3 linked regions of the Homo sapiens genome follow. The protein of the gene in region 1 interacts with the protein of each later gene in a biochemical or structural test. Each region holds a gene or a part of one and is shown in the gene's direction. Other genes may lie near its edges.

Region 1 (7,311 bases):
TTATGAGGCATATTATTTATCCTATCCATAGATGATATAAAAATCCAAATGGACTATTTATTTATTTTTTATTATTTTTTGTAGGCTGGTCTTGAATTCCTGTGCTCAAGCAATCTGCCTACCTTGGCTTCCCCAAGTGCTGAGATTATGGGTGTGAGCCACTGCACCTGGCCAAGAATCCGAATGGATTCAAAGATACCTTGAAATAATTCCTCAATGCAACACACACACATATGCCAGGGTTGGTCAAATGGGAAGAGAGCCTTGGCCTGAAGACAGGGACCTGGGCTTTCCTCAGCTCTTCTGCCAAGGTATCTGTCCTTTCTTAGTGACTCACTGGGCTGAAGTCTAGAGCATTCCAATGGGTGCTGGGGATGGGTTAGTGAACCAGGACCAGCCCTGCCCTTGGGGAGGCATGGGCTGGTAGATGAGACAATGAATAAAAAGCAACCTGGATGTGACATAGGCCAGCACCCAGCAGATGGGGTCACCAAGGAGCTGCATGTCTGAAGGATGAGTGTGGAGCTGTAAGGCCATTTCCAGTGCAGAAATACAAACAAGGAACAGAGATAGCGAATGGTTTCTGGTAGTGACACATTGTTCTGGAGGGCCTTTCAAATGAAGCAGGAGGGTGAGGATGGGGGACGATGATCATGAAGAACCTTCTTTGCAATACCAAAGATGGTTCCCAGGAATGACATGTTGTTCTGGAGGGCCTTTCAAATGGAGCAGAAGGGTGAGGATGAGGGATAGATGATTACGAAGGACCTTCTTTGCAATACCAAAGAGGTGGTCTCCATCTCAAGGGCAATGGGTTGGCGGCACTCCTATGAGGAAGAGTGACAGGATCGTAATTATAAAACATCGTTTTATCTGCCATGAGGAGACAGGGAGCCCATTTGGGCTGCTGCAGAGATGAGGATGGCCTGGGAGAAGTAAGGGAGGGAAACCTCTTTTGCTTGTCTGGGAATCCTATTGTCCATCTGTAAAACAAGAATGTGGGATTGGATGTCACTGAGAGTCCTTTCTGTCCCCACAGCTTAGTCCCATGGTTTGACATGAAGACACCAGGCCAATTCCTCTGTCCTGCAGTGGAGTAGGATAGGGTGAGGAGGGGGTGCCTGGCCTGGGACCCCTGTCTCCAGTGCTACAGGGCAAAAGTGCAGCACCTTCAGGCCCCTCTGGAACCTCTGTGCCCTCAGCAACCCCGTCGTAATTCCCAGGAAACACCACGACTATTCCAGCTGTGCCTGAATAGACTCCCTCTCTATGTAGTCTAACCAAGGACAGTCCCTTAGAGAAGCAAAGATGCATCCTGTCCCTTTAAATCCTGTTTTCCAGCTGACATTTGAGTGGTAGGGGATGAATTAGAGAGAGAATGTGTGTGCATGGTGAAGATGCATAACTGTGGCTCTGTGTGTGATTCTGTTGTGCCTACATGCCTGTTTGATGCCATGTATTAGGCTTTGCAAGTGTGTCTGAGCTGGCCTGGAACTGTCCACTGCTGCTGCAGCTGACATCAGAGGTGGGCCATGGGATGGGATGCAGGGCACCAGAGGCACCTGCCTTACTCTGCTGCTCATGGTACACAGGGGTCTTCCAAAGTACCTGTCACACTTCCCTGAACCTATTTGCCAACCTGTCCCCAACAGCTTGGGGACACACAAACTGTTCCAAATACTTATCCCCTAATTCCTGGCCTCCAGCTGGGATGGGGCTGGCCTGCAGCGCTGGGAACCCATCACTATCCCAAAGCCTCTAATCTACCTCTGCTTCTTTAGTTAGCAAAAATGCCCCTGTCTTTGTTTGTTTGTACTTGGATTTAGTAAAATTGAGGGAATTTTGGGGCTCTTCCCAATTTCTTCCTCATTTGCCTGTTTGCAGACACTAAAGTGAGCTGTAAAATCAATTTGTTCCCAAACTGCTACCTTTTCTAGTTTTCCCTCTGTCACATCTCGAATGACAACTGTGCCTATAATAATAAGATCCATGAAGAAATGGCCCCACATCCAGGGGACCTCGGGTCTGTGGGTCTGTGGGTATGTGCTCAGACCCCAACTGCTCATTCAGGATGCAGAACAGCCTTTGACTCTGCCACTGAAATGGTCACTTCCCAGAAGAATCTTTGGTATGTGAGCTCTCCCAGTTAAGAGCAATCCAGTTCACCCAGGCCAACCCTCTGTTCTGCAGAAATCTGCATGAGATGAGAAGTCCCTGGCCTCTGGTCATTGGGAGCACACCACCTCTTGACATAGCTGCATCTATAGGTGCTTTAGGCACCACCTAGGTGGTGGCTGCAGTAATGAACAAGGATAATAACTTAAGCTTGGCTTAGGATTTCTCCCTTCCTCTGTGCTGCACCGTGCTGTGTGAAGGGCTATCCCTTGTATATGAGGGACACTATTGCCCTGTGAATACATGGGCTGACCTGGCCAGCCACCCTCTGGCCTGTGTGGGACCCTGGGTAACAGGGCTCAGTCTAGGAGCGGAGGGTAGGACTCTGCCTAGGTCCTCCCCTGCTCCTGGCACTGGATAATATGAAGACCAAGGAACCTCTACCTCTGCAGCTGCCCAGAGCTGAGCCTGGGCTCTCACTGTCCATTCAGGAGGCAGAGGGTAGACCTGGCTGGCTGCTCAGCATCTTGTTCCTGCCAGTCAGCAGGCCCTGGAGAGATTCCAGGGCTCAGCCCTGGTCTTAGTGTGGTCTCACTCGCTCTGCCTGGGCAGTGACAGCACCATTAATATGGAGGCTGGTGAGAGCGGAGCACACAAAAGCAGCCTGCCTGCTGCTTTGCCTCTCTCTGCCCAGGGCATGGTGCTAGTTCATGGTGGTTTCAGCCTTTCCTAGCAGCTTAGGTTTATGTGGAGGATGGCAGGGGAACAGGACTGGTTTCTGAGACTAGGTTCCAGCTCTCCTTGCCCTCTAAAGATAGAAACAAACAACACACAACACACATGTATGTCTTCCCCAGACTCTCCGTCTCATAACTCAGAACCAGAGAGTCTCAGAGCTGAGAGGGGCCTCGGGGAAGATTTCACTGATGGAGAAAGCTCCAGAAGAGAGGGCAAGCATCCTGCCTGGGGTACCATGGCAGGGAGAGCAGAGTCAGAGGCTGGACCAAAATGCAGCCTGAGTGGAAGCATGCCTTACCCCAGGCCCTGCTTCCCGAGCCCAATGCCCCACTCAGCTGGCAGACACAGCAGGCCCGCCCTGGGCACTCTGAGGGTGCAGCCACAGCAGATCACCAAGGAGGCATTCTGGGCCAGGGTGGGGTGGGGGGCCTGGGCAAGTTCTCTGGGGAGGTTTCCAGCTCCTCCACACCTGCTGTGGGGCCTGATTCTCCCCGCCCCTGCCCCGCTACTGGTGTGGAAACCAGGGTCAGGTGAAGCCCTGCCCAAGCCTTGAGGAAGAGAGACACATTCTCACTTCTTCCTTTATTCTTTCTGGTGCCCAAGGCACTAACAACTGGGTGTATAAAGCCTTCCAGATAATTTCAGCCAATTTCTCCCCTAGACTTACTCCATCTGATTAAATGGCCACCCAGTCACTCAAGCAGGAGACCTGATGTTATCCCTGCCTCTGGGCTCCTACTTAAAACCAGCCACCCACTCCAGTTCCTCCTCACCAGGTCTGGCTGCCCCTCCGAAATCTCTCTCCATTCCAGCTTCCACGGTCTGATCCAAGGACTTCAACCCACTCAGGCCACTTGATCTCATTAGACTCATGGGTGTCTCCCTGCTTCCCTCCAGGCCTCCTCGATACATTTCCTTCCCAGAGGCTATGGAGGCTTTTGGAGGATGCAGATCTGCCCATGGGCTCTCCGTCTCTGCCTCCCTCCAGTGTCCTCGCTCAGGGAGGGGAAGCTCAGGCGGAAAGCTGCCGAACTTTGGGTTGCGGCTGTCCCTCGATTAGCAGAGCTGCGGTGTTCTCCTCGGGCAGGCGGGCAGGTGGGCGCGCTTTGCTGCCCCCTGCAGCTCGGGGGCCTGCGATCCCCGCACAGAGCATTCCGTCACCCCAGGCCCACGCTCTCCAGCCCACCGCCCTCCTCTGGACGCCGCGAGTGGAAGAGAGCTGCGAACTGAGAAGCCGTACTTTGGGCAGGGTGGAGGGCCCGGGGGCTGGAGACTGAGCCCCTCCGAGAGGAGCCGCCCGGCCCCGCCCCCCGGCGCAGCCATTGGCCGCGGCGGAGCGGCTGTACCCGCAGCTCCGTGCACTCGGCGGCTCCTCTCCGGGAAGGTCCCCACTTGACAGCTCTGGGCGACCGGAGGTGGCGCCCAAAGGCTGCCCGGGAGATCGGGGCTGGGCTGGCGGGGGCCAGGACCCCGCGCCCTCTCGGCCGCTCACTCTCGCGTCCACTCCCTCGCAGTCACGCCGGGCGCGCACTCCCACTCCCTCTCCGCACGCGGCTGCGGGACGCGATGGACGCGGCACTGCTCCACAGCCTGCTGGAGGCCAACTGCAGCCTGGCGCTGGCTGAAGAGCTGCTCTTGGACGGCTGGGGGCCACCCCTGGACCCCGAGGGTAGGCGGGAGGCGAGCGGTCGGAGGCTGCGCGGGCTCCTTCTCTCGCGCGCTGGGTGCGCCCCTGACCCCGCGCTCCGAGAGCCCCGCGTCCCTGCGGGCCCCTCTGAGCCCTACTGCGCTCTCTCCCGCCGCCAGGTCCCTACTCCTACTGCAACACGACCTTGGACCAGATCGGAACGTGCTGGCCCCGCAGCGCTGCCGGAGCCCTCGTGGAGAGGCCGTGCCCCGAGTACTTCAACGGCGTCAAGTACAACACGACCCGTGAGTGCCCCCGGCCCTCGCTGCCTGCTCTACACCGGCCTCCTGAGAAGGCGGTTTAGGGAGTAAAGAGGATTCCGGACCCAGCGGTACAAAGCTGCTGACGGCCGCGGTACCGCGGACCGCGGGCGTTAAGGACCCCTTACAGTGTTGGGGGCGCGCCTTCTGCTTCTACCCCCAATACAGCGTCTAATCTCAGTAAGCCAGTGATTTGCCCACAATTCCCGTGCTCCATGCGGTGACAGCCCAAAAAGGGGAGAAGGAAATACTTCCTCCTCTTGGAGTGTAAACCTCCTTCCCTCATTGTAGGTTCCCGTTGCCTGAAGTTCCCCATTAGGGCTTCATTGTTTAGACAATGCTTCCCCTGCCCAGGAGGGGGACCTATCCCAGGAGGGCGGATATGCTAAGTCCCAAATCCCCCAGAGTGAGTGCAGTGACCAGACCCTACTACCAGAGGGGAGGAGGAGGGTAGGAGGCAGGAGGGCTGGGGCGAGCGCATGTTTCGTGGGGAGGACATGCAGGCGTAGGTTCTGCTAAGCCAGAGGGTGCGGGGTGTTGCATCTTCCCTAATCCGAGGTCCCAGGACTGACCTGCTGGGCTGAGTCAGGGGCTGTGGGCAGCATTATTCCTGCGCCCCCATAATGAGTGGTGTCTGAATCAGCACCCCAACACCATCTCTCAAGGAGAACAACCTGTGCCTGCCTTCCTCCTGGCAAATCATGGACTGGCTTGAGGCTCTGGGGAAAAGGGCAGTAGAGGTTGCTGGAGTTACACAGCCTCCAGGTGGGGTCGTTCAGTGTGGGTTCTGGGTGTGTGCGTGTGGGTAGGTGCCTGTCTGTGCCCTGTGGAACATGGGATGGGAGCCAGGTGTGTGGTCTGCGGGAGGCTGTGGGGGCAGCAATCACTGCCCCACCTAGAACCCCCCTGATATCTCCAGCCGGACCCCAGTTGTCAAGCACGCTGAGACCCTATCTGGATTGTTTGTCTGAAGCCTCTCATCCTGGAAACATCCTCAGAGTGTCTGTGTCTGATTGGTAGCCCAGCTCCACCTCCACCACACATACACACACACACACACACACACACACACACACACACAAGCTTTCAGAAGCTGAGGCTGAGGGCTTTGCCATGAGAGATGGTTAGAAGGCAAGAGAGATGTACCTGCACCTGATGCCAAGCCGCACTCTCCTGGCTGCACCAGCTGAGGGCTCTGGTGGGCCCAGGGAGCACATGCTTCCCATCCATGATTAAAACAGATCTCCCTAGAAGGAAGTAAGATCCCCAAGCTAGGAGGTGTGCAAGCAGAAGGAATGATTTCCCTGTGCCTTCCTAGTCCTGACCTTATAAAACTGTATTTTTAGGATTCCGTGAGCTGTGTGGGGTGGGGCAATGGAGATCAGCATGCCTGATTCAGACTGGGCCCGGAGATTAAGGGCCATCCAGGGTAAAGTGGGGTGATGGAGCATCTCAGCCCACAGCCTGTGAACCTCAGGGAGCTCTGCTTTCGTTCTTACCCCAGCCTGGGCTATGCCTTGTTCTCCCCGACCAGCCTGGGGGCCCCCCCTTCCCAGGGCCTGGGTCTCTTCTTCATAGCCAAGCTGAGTACAGTAATACTCAGTCAATTTGTGGAATACCCACTATGTGCCAGCCACTGCACAGGCACTGTATTGAGGCTCTCACTCACAATTGCAACAGACAAAAAGAACAGAATGATGAATGCCCTAATTAGGGGGGAAGCACAAGGTCTATGGGATTGGGGTGTGGGGGCGGGGTGACAAGGAAGACTTCCCAAAGGTGCTGCAGACAGCACATATCAGGCCATTCATATCAATTAAGTCTAATGAGAAGCTGATAAAAGGTTGGGGCACCACCCAGGCTGGTAAAAGTAGGGCCAATTAGCCCCTGGTATCTAATGAACAATTTTCTTCATTTAGACCAAAGTGCTGCCTGCACTGCAACTGCTGGAGAATGAGAGGAGCTTGTGGAGGGTGGGGAGCACTTACCACTAACCAGCACCTGGGGTGTGAGGTCAGCCTAGGTGGGAAGAGCAGAGGCTGCTAATGGCTGTGGAAATGCATGATTGATTTCCCTCCTCCCCTTTCTTCACATCAGTGCTGCTTCCTGCTTCTCTGTTTGCCTTTTCCTTGGGATCCTTCCTTTAAAAAGAATGACAGAGGGAGAAACCTCCACGAGAAGCCTAGGGGAAGAACAGGAGCGTTCAGGCTCCACTTCCTGCCCCAATTTTGTTATGCTATAGCCAAACCCGCATTGAAGCCTCATTCCTTAGAGAGCAGGAATCGCCCGGGTGGGGATAGCAGTTTAGATATTAGTCTCTGCGATTTTTCAACTCAGCTGAGCACAGAGAATCTGCCACAAAGCTAAGTGTTGATCATTTTCCAGGTGCCAGCTACCACTGAGAGAGCTTTGTATCCATATCTCAGGCATCCATAATCCCACTCGCCCACACTCCCTCTGAGATACATACTGCTTTTATGCCCATATTGCAGGCAAGAACACTGAGTCTCA
Region 2 (7,244 bases), on another chromosome or scaffold:
CCACCAGTGTGGTAGCTTTTGACCTTATAGTGACCCAGTGCTCTCATGGTGTCCTCATGTCACCCAGGGTCCCCCACCTCCACAGTAGCCGCCTATGATGGTGTCCCCTGCCTATGGTGACCCTTGTCCCCATGGCAAGCCCCAGTGGCTCTGGCCTCCAGAGGTGACTCCCACCCCATGGTGTTCCCTACCCACTATCCAGGGCGATTCTCTTTGGTCCCTCACTGACCTCCTCTGACCTCACATGGACCCTCTCCCTGCTAGGGATCCCCAGGAAAGGATGGAGTGCCTGGTATCCGAGGAGAAAAAGGAGATGTTGGCTTCATGGGTCCCCGGGGCCTCAAGGTAGGAAAGAAACAAGATTGGTTTTTTTCTGGTCAGGAAGGCCTAATGTTGAAGGGCGAGGGACCTGGGGTCAGATATTAGGGCACTGGGTCAGAGGTTGGAGTAGCTGAGGCCTGTTTGGAGAGTTAGTTTCAGGGTGAAGGGGGTCACAGAGTGAGGTGTCTGGGAATCACTTCTTCATCTGCTTTTCTCCCTCAGGGTGAACGGGGAGTGAAGGGAGCCTGTGGCCTTGATGGAGAGAAGGGAGACAAGGTACAGAGGGGATGGGGGCTGGGGGGCTACGTGGCCTGGGGCCTAAGGCTCACCCCACTGCCTGATGCCTGCAGGGAGAAGCTGGTCCCCCAGGCCGCCCCGGGCTGGCAGGACACAAAGGAGAGATGGTGAGTGTGGGCACGCTCAGAATGAGGGGGCCACGGGTGGACGGGGGCCAAGTTCATGTCTTTTTTTCTCCAGGGGGAGCCTGGTGTGCCGGGCCAGTCGGGGGCCCCTGGCAAGGAGGGCCTGATCGGTCCCAAGGTACAGGGTCTGTGGACAGTGGACATGACAGGGAGTCAGGATGGGGCAGGGAAGCTCATGGTCGGGTCATGGGGGTGTAGGGACAAGGAAGGCTGTAGAGGGTTGGGACTTTGGGGGCTGAAGTGGGGCTGGTCTCGAGGTGTCAAGGTGGGTTGGGGTCACAGTGGAGTTAGGATGAAAGCATGGGAGGTGGAGGGGGCATGTGCATCAGGGCAGGGGGCTATAGTGGAGTTGGAGTCATGGGGATCACATCTGGTTGGCTCACAGGTGCTTGGGTTACAGAAGGTTTGGGCATTAGGCCAGGGAGCTCATGGGAGTTCAGGGAGGTTCCAGAGCTGAGGGAGGTCAGGGCAGAAGGTCTCTCATGCTTCTTCTGTTCCCAGGGTGACCGAGGCTTTGACGGGCAGCCAGGCCCCAAGGGTGACCAGGGCGAGAAAGGGGAGCGGGTGAGTTGAAGCCATGGTCATGGTGAATTGAGGGGAGCGTGCACTTTGGGAGAGGGTCCATCTCTGGGGCCTCTGATTACTGACTCTGTCCTATATCTCCCCAGGGAACCCCAGGAATTGGGGGCTTCCCAGGCCCCAGTGGAAATGATGGCTCTGCTGGTCCCCCAGGGCCACCTGGCAGTGTTGGTCCCAGAGGCCCCGAAGGACTTCAGGGCCAGAAGGTAAGGGGCCCCAGCTCTGACTCCTGATCCCTGAACCTTCCCTACCCTTCCAACCTCATAACCATCTTCCAGCCTGCCTGCCCCAACCTCTGAAGCTGTGGCCCCCAACCTGCCTGACTCTGATCCCCACTGCCTCTGACCCTGCTCACTTGGTCCCTGTGTCTGACAGGGTGAGCGAGGTCCCCCCGGAGAGAGAGTGGTGGGGGCTCCTGGGGTCCCTGGAGCTCCTGGCGAGAGAGGGGAGCAGGTGAGTAGGGATTCCAAGGCTTGGGTCAGAGATCGGGGTGACTTCTGTTGTCCCTGAGGTCAGAGGTCACAGCCTGGTCCCATCTGTTGCACATAGGGGCGGCCAGGGCCTGCCGGTCCTCGAGGCGAGAAGGGAGAAGCTGCACTGACGGTGAGTGTGGGCCTGGATGGGCCTGGGAGGGCCTGGGTGGGCCTGGGTGGGCTGGGGCCCTACCTCCCTCACCCAGCACCCTGACCCCTGGGCCCTGGCTCCATGCAGTCTCACCATAGTCCCTGTATTATGTGCCCTATGTCCTTCCTGTGGGCCATGGGTTCTTTATGGTCCCTGTGGTCTTCTGCTCCCAGGAGGATGACATCCGGGGCTTTGTGCGCCAAGAGATGAGTCAGCACTGTGGTGAGTGGTGCCCAGCCCGCAGTCTCCCACTCCACCCCAGCACCCTAGGCAAGGGCAGGCAGGCCCCTAGAACTTACAGGGCAAGCAGTCAAGAAGATGGGGGGATGGATGGATACACAGAAGGACACATGTGCTGCAGGACTGACACATGACATGTGTCCCCAGTGGAGGGAGACACACAGGCAGATGAGGATTGCCATGCAGTGCTCTCAGATGTCCAGCTTGGCTGTGTGGGGAGTGGGATGATGGTGGGAGCAGAGCTGGTCCCCTTGGGCCTGACCTGGACCCGGTGGGAGGGGCATCAGAGTGAAGCTGTCTCTTCCCGTCTCTGTCTGCACCACCTGCCTGTTTCTGTGTCTGGCCTGCTTCTGTCTCTTGCCTTTTGTTGGCCTGTTCCCAACTTCCCTCTCCTCTGCCTTCTTCTCTTTTTCCATCTCTCTATCTACCTCCCACCCTCTCTCTTCCTCTCTCTCCTGTTACCCTCTCCTGCTATCTCTTTGTGTATCTCTACCCCTCTGCCTGTGTGTCTCTGTCTGTCTCTCCATCTTCCCATCCTTCTCTCTGTCATTGTCTCTCTATCCCTCTCTGCCCCCTCTAGCCTGCCAGGGCCAGTTCATCGCATCTGGATCACGTGAGTAGTTTTCTACTCCCAGAACTTTCTTCACCCCAGGCCCTGCCCTGCCTATCAACTGGGGTCCTCTCAGGGGGGTTGGCTGGGATGGCTGCCCATGGTGACTTCAGGGCCCTGAGGCCCCTGCTCTTGGCTCCAGGACCCCTCCCTAGTTATGCTGCAGACACTGCCGGCTCCCAGCTCCATGCTGTGCCTGTGCTCCGCGTCTCTCATGCAGAGGAGGAAGGTGAGGACAGCTGAACCCGTGGGGCAGCTATGGGTGGGGCCGAGACACGCACATGGGTGTCCATGAATGCAGGGCACACGCCAAGCACGTAGGGTCTGCATGCAGGGCACACGCATGGGCACTGTGTGCACACAGTGGAAATCAGTGCTGCCCACCTTGCCCCGGGGCCAGCAGCCACTGCTCCCAGCACACCCTGCCCTACCTGCAGAGCGGGTACCCCCTGAGGATGATGAGTACTCTGAATACTCCGAGTATTCTGTGGAGGAGTACCAGGACCCTGAAGCTCCTTGGGATAGTGATGGTGAGAATGGGGGGCTGCCAGCGGGGTCTGGGGAGGGGCAGGCAGGGCTGAGCCCTGCTGACCTCCCCCTGACCTTTCAACCCTCTCTGATTCCCACAAACCCTGCTGACTTGACCCCATTGGCCCAGACCCCTGTTCCCTGCCACTGGATGAGGGCTCCTGCACTGCCTACACCCTGCGCTGGTACCATCGGGCTGTGACAGGCAGCACAGAGGCCTGTCACCCTTTTGTCTATGGTGGCTGTGGAGGGAATGCCAACCGTTTTGGGACCCGTGAGGCCTGCGAGCGCCGCTGCCCACCCCGGGTGGTCCAGAGCCAGGGGACAGGTATGGGCTGAGCCCCCACCGTGGGGAACTGGGCACTGAGCCTGCCTGGATCGGGTTCTGGGGGAGGAGTCCTTGGGCCAGGGTTCCAGGTCAGGGTCCTGGAGGAGACGCTCCCTCGCAGTAGGGGACCTGGGGCAGACGCCCAGACCAAAGAGCTGAATATAGAGCCCCAGCCGTGGAGCCCCCAGTAGGGTCCCCTTCCATGTTCCCTCCTTTAAAGACCTAAGTATGGACCCCTCTGAGGTCAGAGCCCCCACTTCCTGTTGTAGCCTCCGCTCCCTCCCCTTGGCGGTGCCTCTGCCTGAGCGTCTCCGGGGAAGGTCAGATGGCTGACGACCGTTTCCAACCTGTCCTCACCAGGTACTGCCCAGGACTGAGGCCCAGATAATGAGCTGAGATTCAGCATCCCCTGGAGGAGTCGGGGTCTCAGCAGAACCCCACTGTCCCTCCCCTTGGTGCTAGAGGCTTGTGTGCACGTGAGCGTGCGTGTGCACGTCCGTTATTTCAGTGACTTGGTCCCGTGGGTCTAGCCTTCCCCCCTGTGGACAAACCCCCATTGTGGCTCCTGCCACCCTGGCAGATGACTCACTGTGGGGGGGTGGCTGTGGGCAGTGAGCGGATGTGACTGGCGTCTGACCCGCCCCTTGACCCAAGCCTGTGATGACATGGTGCTGATTCTGGGGGGCATTAAAGCTGCTGTTTTAAAAGGCTCCTGTTGTGACTGTTTGGGAAGATGGGGGGTTTCAAGGGGGAAGGTTTTCCTTGGGGGGTTGGTATTATTCTGCATGGGTACAGAGTCCCTCTGCCCAGTCCTGGTCACTGTCTTGTGATTCTCAGTCCCCAACTTGTCCCCGGAAAAGAGTAGATAGGGTGGGGGCTAAGGACACCCCCGGGAGGGATGAGTCATAGGTGGGGGGCTGCCTCATGCCAGGAAGCATGTACCAGCTCCCACCCCAGGGGGCTGAGGGAGATAAATGGGCCCTGAAGCGGGGTAGAGGGTCAGACCACAGGACAGTAGTGCCTGGCCCCAGCCCCAGGCAGCCACAGCAGGCTGCCTTACCCCAGAAGCAGCTGGTGGCGGTAGGACTGGGTTGGGTCGGGATGGGAAGGGTCTTGGAGGTTGAGTGGATGTGGGGTTTGGCTTTATGGAGGGCTTGGACCCAGGGGACTCTGGGATCTCTGGCTGCTTTTCTGCCTCTGAGATCCGATTCCTGCCCTTCTGTTTCCTGGATCAGCTGCAAGCTCTCCTGCTGAGAACCGCCTGCCCTCCTGTGGACTCTGTGTTTCTGTCTGAATCTTTCTTTCCATCATGCTGTCTGTCTCTGGGATGGTTTCTGTCTGTCTTTTTCTTCTAGTCTCCATTTTGCTCTGCCTCCATCTCCTTCATCTCCCTCTCTTGCTGTCCCTCTGTCTCTGGATTTCTTTGTTTCTTTTTTTCTGTCTTGCTTTCTGCCTCTTTGTCTCATTCTGGCTCTCCTCTTGTCTCCCCTTCTCTGTCTCTGGCCTGGCCTGGCCTCTCTAACCCCTTTCTCGGTGTCTTCCTCTCTCTCCATCCCCCGCTCTGTCACTCTGCCCTTGCCATCTGTCTCTGTCCATGGACCCCAGTTGACCAGAGCCCCTGCCCTGAGCCCATTTTCTCCTTGCAGCCTGACCTCACGATGACCAGGTGTGCTCTGCTGTTGCTGATGGTCCTGATGTTGGGCAGAGTCCTGGTTGTCCCAGTGACCCCTATCCCAACCTTCCAGCTCCGCCCTCAGAATTCTCCCCAGACCACTCCCCGACCTGCGGCCTCAGAGAGCCCCTCAGCTGCTCCCACATGGCCGTGGGCTGCCCAGAGCCACTGCAGCCCCACCCGCCACCCTGGCTCGCGCATTGTCCTATCGCTGGATGTCCCCATCGGCCTCTTGCAGATCTTACTGGAGCAAGCCCGGGCCAGGGCTGCCAGGGAGCAGGCCACCACCAACGCCCGCATCCTGGCCCGTGTCGGCCACTGCTGAGCCTGAGAGAGGGGGTCACAGTGATAGGGCCACCCTGGATGGGAAGACCTGGAGGGCAGCCACACAGCTGGACGGATGCTGCCACATCTGGGCATACAGTGTCTGGACGCTGCCACATCTGGGCATACAGTGTCTGGACACTGCCACATGGAGCCACTGTCATGCAGGTCATATCAGATCTGAGTGCCCCACAGAGTCACAGTGTGTCTGGACAGCCTGGACATTGGACATTGCTAAGTTGGGTCACTGCCACATGGAGTCTTGCCATGCCTGTGTGCCCCACAGACCTAATATATGTCCGGACAGCTTGGATGCTGCCACGTAAGGTCACTGCTGTGGCGAGTCTTGCTATGTCTGGGTGCCCCATAGTCACAGAACACCTGGACACCGCCACATGCAGTCATCATCATGTTACTTTCAGGAGCCTCAACACGAGAGCTCAACACTGCCTCCGACCAGTCCCTCTGAGGCCCACAGGTCTGTCATCCCATAGGCCACCACACAGAGAAATGCTGGCTGAGGGTCACTTGCTTGCTCTGTGCCCCATGAGGCAGCACCTGCCCCAGATGGACGGGGCTGTGAGGGGTGTCTCCAGGCACAAAGGCCCGAACACAGGAAGCCTGTGACCATGGCAGCCTTGTCTTATGGGCGCATATGTGCGTGTGTGGCTGAGTCTCTGACAGCTGTGAGTGTGTGTGAGCAGGGTAAGGGTACGTGAGGGGTCTGAGAGGAGTGGGTGCTTGTCCCCCAAACCTGCATGAAGCAAGAACAACTCCTGGCCAGGCCCTGTCCTCCCCACGTACCCCTGCATCCCCAGCCTCGACCCAGGGACATGCAGGGCTCACAGGAGACAGGGCTCAGGCTGCCGGAGCTCCAACCAAACTCTGTCCCACTTCACGCACGGACTGTCCTGGGCAAAGGTGTTCACCTTTCCGAGCCTCGGTTTCCTTATCTGTAAAGCAAAGCGACACCAGCAAGCCTGTGAGCATTGTGTATATAGCAGACATGGAGGTCCTGCAGCAGGAGGTGCTCAATAAACACAAAGCGACTGAAGGATGGGACCAGCAAGCCTGTGAGCATTGTGTATGTAGCAGACATGGAGGTCCTGCAGCAGGAGGTGCTCAATAAACACAAAGCGACTGAAGGATGGGATGTGCGAGAATCCCAGTGGTGTGCACCCAGGCCGCGACACATGGTGGGTGAGTCATACCTGGCTTCTCTGCCTTCCTCCCTAGCTCCCCGGTTAACTGACCTGGTCCCTTGGTTTGGAAGGACTAGGTTTTGCCTGATTTCACAGCCCAACTCCATTGCTGGGCCAGAGACAGAACTGACTTTCCAGGCAGTGTGGACGGGCTTGCCCGCAGAGGGGGCAGGCACTCTGGGCTGTGCAGACAACTCTAGGTGGACATGAAGGCAGACGCTGGGTGGCATGGGCAGCTCTGGCGGGAGAGGGAGACTGTACTGGCCACAGCGTGGCCGGCTGACTGGAGTGGGGGCACTGGCGCTGCCCTCACAGTTGTAAGCAGCCCTGTGGGGGCGGGCCTACAGTGGGCTGGGGAGGCGGGGCTGCAGGAGCCGCAGGAGTCGCTTCTCTC
Region 3 (7,590 bases), on another chromosome or scaffold:
GTTTGTTGGCCGGTGCATCCTGCACGCCCGCAGGATAACTCAGGGATGAGGAACTCTGAGGGTGGTTAGAACTTGGGATTCTAGAGCATCTTAGCAACAGAGCAATAAATGTTTAGAGAAGTGACAAGACAAGATAAAATACTTTGAGTTTTTAGGGGAGGCAAATTGCAGGAAGGTAAATATACGAGGAAACTAATGAAAGATAAGGGCTAGTGAGTAAGGTTTGTTAGGTAGATTTCTCTGGCTCCTCCCGGCTAATAAAACTCTAGGTTGTCTCAGGGGATTAGGTCTGTTCTTCCTGGTAGAGAGAAGGGCAGACACCTTTACAAATGCATGTCCTGCCTTGGCAAATATGGGAAGGGTAAGAGCTTTTCTATCAATAGTATCTGCTTTTCCTAAACTGTCGTCAGCTCAAAATAATCCTTATGCCATATGGTATATTTTGGAGTCACATAGTTGGCTACCCTTCATCACAGAAAAACATTTAAAAATATTTGAACTGAATGACAATGAAAATACAACCCATTAAAACTTGTGGCATGTGGCTAAACCAATGCTTAGAAGAAAAGTTATATATTAAATAGCTTTAGATGGTTAGATTGTAAAATACAGGGAAAATGAAAATGAAGACTTCATCAATACAGCAGATGGCAGAAAAGAAAAAACAATAATAAATGGAAGAAAAGGGGGATAAAACTGTGCAAATAGAAATCACAATGTAAGATGGATGGTAGAAAATAATTCAATACATCAGGAGTCAAGTATCTTTACATTAGTTTATTAAAGTCCTTGGTTAAAACACAAAGATTGTTAGATTTAATTTTTAAAATTTAAATATATACCATTTACAAAGTAATTCTGAAACAGAAAAGACTGGAAAAATACAGCAAGCAAAAGTTATCCAACGGAAAGCTGGGATAGCTATTTTGATATCAGGCAAAGCAAACTTTATGAGAAGTATTATTTAGGATGAAGAGGTTAACAGCAAGATGATAACATGAAGAATTTATATATGCCAAACACTCCAAATATATAAAACAGAAATAGACAGACTTACAAGACAAAAATTGACAATCCACAAACACAACAGGAGGTAAACACACACCCTGCTAAAAGTGAGAAATCACGAACAAAAAATCAGTCAGAGAAAATAAGGGAGAACTGAAGAAGAAAGATGATGCTAATATTCTGTGTTCACATACAACTTTATCAAGTTATTGCAATACTATCTTGACATCAACCTTGCTAAAAACAAACAGGGAAGGCACAGCAATCTACATTTTAAAATACAGGAGACAGAGGACTAGGGAATGTGGGTGTCTGTGAGAATCAAACAGCCATGCTAGCAACCCAGGCAGAAATGAAAACGGACCTTCCCGGCTCCTCAGTAAAACTTCTCTCCTATAAGTCAAGCTCTCTCACACTTTGCTAATTCTCTCGTCTATCTTTATTTTACCGCCATGCTCAGATGTTGAGGAAATAATTATGTTATTAAGTGTAAGTGCTTTGAGCACTTTGGAGAAATGAGCTTTATAAATATGAGCCATTTCTATTCACCTGAGAAGCTGATCAGCTTTTTCTTCTCACCCTGGCCCTCTTTGTACCCTCTACAGGACATTTACATCCCTGAACAACATGCTCATGCTGAGTCCACGGAAGATACCAATGACTCACAAAGGCCAGAGAGAAGTGCAAGTGTAGAAACACGCCACATTCACACATCAGCCATGGGGAGGGAGGGAAATCGTTGTTTGCTAGAAATGACACTCCAGAGGTTTTGCTACTCATCATCTTCTTGCTGCCCAAGCCTCTGTTCAGTCCCCCACCAGATGCGTCATTCAAGTTGTAAAGCAAATGTACTATTTCTTGACATTTCTAGAAAACTACACCCTGGACTGCACCCTTACAGCTGCTCATGTCCATGAAACATTCTGTGTGGAACTCCATCCAGGCTAGCAGAAGTCACTGGACAATGCCAAAGCCCACCCAGGATGGACCAGTGGGAGCCGATGAGCCTGCTCTGTGTGACGAAGGGACGGCAGGCTCCAAGAACAGCCACCAACACCAAGACCCTTCAGTCCCAGCGAGGTGGCCTCAGGGTAGGAGGATTTCTAGGAAGTTCAGAGGAAACAAGGTAAGAAAAGAAGCCAGGGTTCATCGTCTCTCTTTCTAAACCCCATACTGTAGGGAAGTGGTCCTCATGCCCCCAGAGGACATGTCTGGAAACATTTTTGATGGTCACAGACAAAGAGGGGAGTGCTACTGGCATCTAATGGGTAGATGCCCAGGATGCTGCTAAATTCCTCCAGAGCTCAGGGCAGACCCCAAGGCCAACAAGGAATTACCTCACCCAAAATGTCAACAGTGCTGAGGATGGGAAACCCTGCCCTGGGAGACCAACGTTGCCAGATCCCTGGCATCTCAGAGCCCATAAGGCAGACAGGAGAGTTAAACTCAGGTGGAAATCTACCCCTCAACCTGCATAAATTCCATTACTGCATCATTATCTGAAATGGAAAGCAGAACAAAAACCTCACAAAAACTAGAACAAATGAATGAATGAAGGAACTAATGAAGGAATGAACTAATGAATGAATGAATGAATGAACTAATGAATGAATGAATGAAGTAATGAATTTGAATTGAAACACAGATTCAGTTTCATGTTGCCTCCAATCTCAAGAGGATCCTAGCCCAGGCAGCTCTGAAAGAAGGAAGAGAGGGAGGTCCAATTTCCTATCTCCATAAAGAGACTTAAAATGGGGAGTACAGAGTCTTGAAGTCCTTCCCCACAACAGCTTTCCATTTGTTCCTCCAAATGCTCATGGGCTTTAAAGAGTTTTGGTAATTTCAGAAGACCTCTTACCTCTTCACCTGCAGGAATTCACGAGAGTGGAGCAGCCGTCTGGGAGGAGGGCTAGGGACAGCCAGCCGGTCTTGCAGGGCCCCTTGTCATCAGCTCAGCCCAGTGAAAGGAGCACTGAGCCCAGCGTCAGGCCTGGTTCTCACCTGACTCTGTCACCCTGGGCCTGTGGGGTCCCAGCAGGTCACTTTTTACAGCCTCAGCTTCCTCATCTGTGAATAAGGGGTCAACAGACCGTAGTCTCCCACATCTCCCCATTACATATGGAATAAACTCCCAACTCCGCAGGCCTTTGGAGCACCTTAGTGCAGAGCAGCCTCTGCACCCACCAACACCTCCCTCCCATCGTCCTCCTTCTCTCCCGTTCCTCTCAGCCCTGGCTCAGTCCATGCTGATCCATCCTTTCTGTCTGAAACCCCTCCTGCTCTCCTCTCCTGTCTTGAGTAGACAGGACTGCTCTCTTCTGTAGCATTTTTTACCTACCTTTCTTTCTTTCTTTCTTTTGAGATGGAGTCTCACTCTGTTGCCCAGGCTGGAGTGCAATGGCGCCATCTCAGCTCACTGCAACCCCCACCTCCCAGGTTCAAGTGATTCTCTTGCCTTGGCCTCCTGAGTAGTTGGAATTACAGGCACTCGCCACCATGCCCGGCTAATTTTTTTTGTATTCTTAGTAGAGCCGGGGTTTCACCATGTTGGCCAGGCTAGTCTTGAACTCCTGACCTCGTGATCTGCCCGCCTCGGCCTCCCACAGTGCTGGGATTACTGGCATAAGCCACCGCACCCAGCCTTCCCTACCTTTCTAAACCATGAGGCCCTGTATGGTTAGGGGCCACAACTTACTTATCTCTGAACTCGTGGGTGTCTTGGCAATACCTGGTACACAGTAAGTCCTCAATAAATATAGGATGCATAAACGAGTAAAATCCAAGCCATTTCCCACTAAAACCTCCAGACCTCTGGTGTATGATGACCTGCTGTCATAGCCCAAAGGAATGGTTGAGTTTCAGGTATCCAGAGAAAAATGCAGGTGTAGAGCTTTCCCCTCAAACGTATTAACAAATAGATGGTGCTCAGTCATTTTCGCGGCAGGCTGCAGAGAAATCTTAAACTTTCGTGTTGTTTCACTGAGGGTACGGCAGAAGAGCCCAAGGAATGTGAAAGGAGAAACTTGCATAATTAGACTTTATGTGGGGAGTAGGCACCGAGTGTGTGACAAGCACAAGGGGCTACGTGTGCGGCCAGATGACGCTGCACGGTCAGAACCCACAAAACAACACGGCAACAGGTGGATTTTAAACCCCTTCTCTGCTTTCAAAGCAGGTCCAGGCTCTACATTTACAGAAGGAGAGTTAGGGCAAGGGGAATGTGGGGGAAACTGAAATTAGTTAGAACTAAGATCAGCAATAAAATTCTTCAAAGACACTGCTTCTCACTTTACCAGGATTTTTGTTTTGTTTTGTTTTGAGTTTTTATTTCTTCTTTTTCTTTTTTGTTCTTTGCTTTTATCAATGAAGCAAGTTGCTAGGATGCAAAAGGAGTTGGGGGGTAGAAGGGCGGGGTGGGAAGCAGAGGTGGGAGGGGTCGAGGTTGGAGCACCTGTCGTCTGCATGACGTGGACGGCTGGTTCTGGTTGTATTTTAAATGAAATCTCATCCCAGCGTAGACACCACGTCTGGAATTACGATCCACCCTGTGATCTGTCACTTTTATATACACACAGGGGAGGGGACCGTTTCCATAGAGAGGGAATATCACAGCCCACTTAGGAACAATACCGGAGAAGCAGGAGCCGAGACCCCGGAGCAGCCACAAGTTCATGGGGACGTGCACGGGGCCGCCCTCCTGGCCCTGAAGCTGCGCCGGCCTCCCTGAGCGTTTCGCTGCGGAGGGAAGTCCACTCTCGGGTAAGCTTGTGGCTGGGACTGACTTATGAAGGGTAAATGTATCTGCCCTAATTTAAGCAGGAGGTGCCATGCACTAGACAGGTGTGAGAGATGAGAGCTGCTAGCGCCCCTGGGTGGAAGCCCAAGGGAGCGATGCTGAACGCCCCCCACCCAATCAGCAGAAATCAGCCCCAAAGGGACCAGGGGAAGTTTCTCAGGGAGGCACAATCACATTCCCACGTTGGTATAGAGAGACCCTCTTTCCAAAGGTGTTAGATCAGAGGCAGAAGGTGTTCACACAAATCTGTTTTCTCTGAACAGAGCACAGCTGTGCACAGGAAAGTCAGTCCTCGGAGACAGTTTACAAATGGGGATGGGGTAGGGATGCCGGGGCTAATGGGAGCCACAGGACATGACTCCACGCCGCCTGCAAAGCAGCGAGGACACCTGCACTTACTGTTTACCTGTGCCACAAACCTTCACCTGTGCCATCTCCCGTCACTCTCGGGCACACCTGTGAAGCAGGTAACGTCTCCTTCCTAGGACGCGGCAAGTGAAATGCAGGTTAAGGGATTCACCCAAGAAAAGTCAGAGGCAAGGGAGTTTCCCCAGCCAGGTCCTCTGCCACCAAAGCCCAGAGCCCTTTGCCACACTAGGAACATTGCGGGGGTGTGTGCAGATACCTACAATGGCTAACTCCTACCTGTGAAGGGGAGATGGATGTTTGATGTTTATGTTTTCTGAAAATTCCTGTTCGCAATTTCTTTCCCAAGCATAGCCACCTACCAAAAATAACAAATGTGAGATTTTTAAAACGTTTTAAGTGGTCTAGTTTCAGTTTAACTTCTTATCAGTGTTTGCAGACAAACGGAGCCCACAGGAATAGCTCTGCACTTGGCAGAGATGTGTGATCAGTACTGTTTGCCTCCTGCCTTTGCTGCTTCATGTCCTGTCCTCTCCCTGTGAGGTGCTGGGAATTGGAGGCTGACCCAGGTCCCTCACGTTTCAGTGCTTGGCTCTGCCACAGCTCCCAGAAGTAACTGTGTCTCTTTACAGCATCCTCGACAAGTGCTACTGTCACCATAGCCCAAAGGAATGGTTGAGTTTCAGGCACCCAGAGAAAAATACAGGTGTAGAGCTTTGCCCCTCAAATGTATTAATAACTAGATGGTGCCCAGTTATTTTCGTGGCAGACTGCAGAGAAATCTTAAACTTTTGTGCTGTTTCACCAAGAATATGGCAGAAGAGTCCAAGGAATGTAAAAGGAGAAACTTGCAAAATTAGACTTTATGTGGGAAGTACAGAGTATCTTTTCTTCTTTGGGGAGAGTTCCTTTTCTTTTATCCTATAAACCCTAAACAAATCTAAACAGATCCTAAAAAGAAAAGTCCTGGAAAGAAATCTGAATCTACCTTCCAGCCCCCAGCCACTCACACACTTTGATGGTGAAACCATCCAGGGTTGCAAAGAACCCTTACATTTTAAACGATCTAAAACTAAGCTCAGCACCGGGCGTCCCTATCATGTCCAATTCACAGTTCTGGGAGGTTCCTTTGCTGTGTAACTTTGCATCATTGCTGATGGTAAGGGGACACCTTTCAATACCCTCACAACCGTGTGCAGGCTAGAGCTGAGGGTTTGCAGAGAGAGAAAGGTCTGCTACCTGCAGATGCACCAAGAACAGAGCGCCACGCAGGACACTTGCTCCCTGACACTTTCACAGATTTTTCCACACCTTCAGCACCCTAGCCGTGATTACAGTATTCTTCTCTGATGGTAGACTTGGGATTTGAAAAATAAGAAGGTAATGCATTTTTTAAAAGGCACAGTATTTACAAATTGACCCCAAAAATGTGAAAAAGTAAATATAGAGGTAAAAGGGATCTCACTCCCTCTCCCCAATGCCTTGCTTTTGTAACTGAGATGAGACAGGTAGCACTTCCAGGGAACACATCCAGAGGCTAGCCCATTGCAAGGGAAAACCTGAACTTTTTCACAGGAAAATTGCAGAAAGTTACTTAGACGAGGCTGTTTCATGTTCAGAAGCCCTCATCTTTCAAGTGACTCTAGGTACACATGTATGATTTCATAATTAAAAAACAAAACCAAAAAAGTATGCCATATAAAAGATTTTTTCCTCTGTGATACGTAACAACATGATTTGCAGAGAGAATGTACATCCATGAAAGAATTTAAAAGAGGTTGTTTTGCTTTGGAAAATAAATTGATTTAATTAAGTGCCTGAATACTAATCTGAATTTCAATTCATTCAACAAATATTGATTGAGAATATGATTTAGTATAAGGCACTATTGGCCATGTCAGGCTTTTCCAAGCATCCTGAGTCACTGCTGAGAGCCAAATGACCCAGAGGGATAGTGAAAGGCTTGGCATATTTAGCAGAAATGGAGACACCAAAGAAATATAACACCCAAAGTGTCTTTAAGGGGTGGAGATAGACAGGTAAACTCAAGTGTTGATTTACACTAAAGGGCCAGTCCGTGTGAGCAGAGCCCCAAGATGGGCTTGAACTCAGAAAGTAGTCTGAGTTCTCAGTAATATTTGCAATTATTCTGCAAAGTTCTAAGTGCTTGAGGGTAAATGCAGAATGCTGCCCCGGGAAGGAAATAGAAAGGAGCAGGGAGGGGTTCCCTGGGCTGGGGTGCAGGGTTTGAGTGAGGAAGCAAAATAAACAAATGGGGTGGTGGGGCAGTGGGGAGAGAGCCATGTGGAACCCACAGAGGGAGGCCTGAGGGTAGCTCCAGGGTTGCATCTCAGCACCCTCTAATTTTTTTAATTTATTTATTTTTTTGAGACAGAGTCTCACTCTTTCACCCAGGATGG

The links.
Region 2: the proteins of CRHR2 (region 1) and UCN2 are reported together in a solved structure, tested with the Homo sapiens proteins (one study listed by IntAct).
Region 3: the proteins of CRHR2 (region 1) and UCN3 are reported together in a solved structure, tested with the Homo sapiens proteins (one study listed by IntAct).

The regions. Positions count from the first base shown.
Region 1 is NC_000007.14:30,679,389-30,686,699, reverse strand, and holds the start of CRHR2 (corticotropin-releasing factor receptor 2), read left to right. Parts: upstream 1-4,243; 5' UTR 4,244-4,419; coding exon 4,420-4,522; intron 4,523-4,659; coding exon 4,660-4,785; intron 4,786-7,311. UniProt on the Homo sapiens protein: G-protein coupled receptor for CRH (corticotropin-releasing factor), UCN (urocortin), UCN2 and UCN3. Has high affinity for UCN.
Region 2 is NC_000003.12:48,561,191-48,568,434, reverse strand, and holds UCN2 (urocortin-2 preproprotein), read left to right. Parts: upstream 1-4,653; 5' UTR 4,654-4,732; intron 4,733-5,298; 5' UTR 5,299-5,310; coding exon 5,311-5,649; 3' UTR 5,650-6,717; downstream 6,718-7,244. Other genes in the region: COL7A1 (collagen alpha-1(VII) chain precursor), read left to right, coding at 265-345, 544-597, 672-725, 799-861, 1,245-1,307, 1,412-1,528, 1,698-1,775, 1,872-1,925 and 6 more. UniProt on the Homo sapiens protein: Suppresses food intake, delays gastric emptying and decreases heat-induced edema. Might represent an endogenous ligand for maintaining homeostasis after stress.
Region 3 is NC_000010.11:5,360,464-5,368,053, forward strand, and holds the start of UCN3 (urocortin-3 preproprotein), read left to right. Parts: upstream 1-4,502; 5' UTR 4,503-4,767; intron 4,768-7,590. UniProt on the Homo sapiens protein: Suppresses food intake, delays gastric emptying and decreases heat-induced edema. Might represent an endogenous ligand for maintaining homeostasis after stress.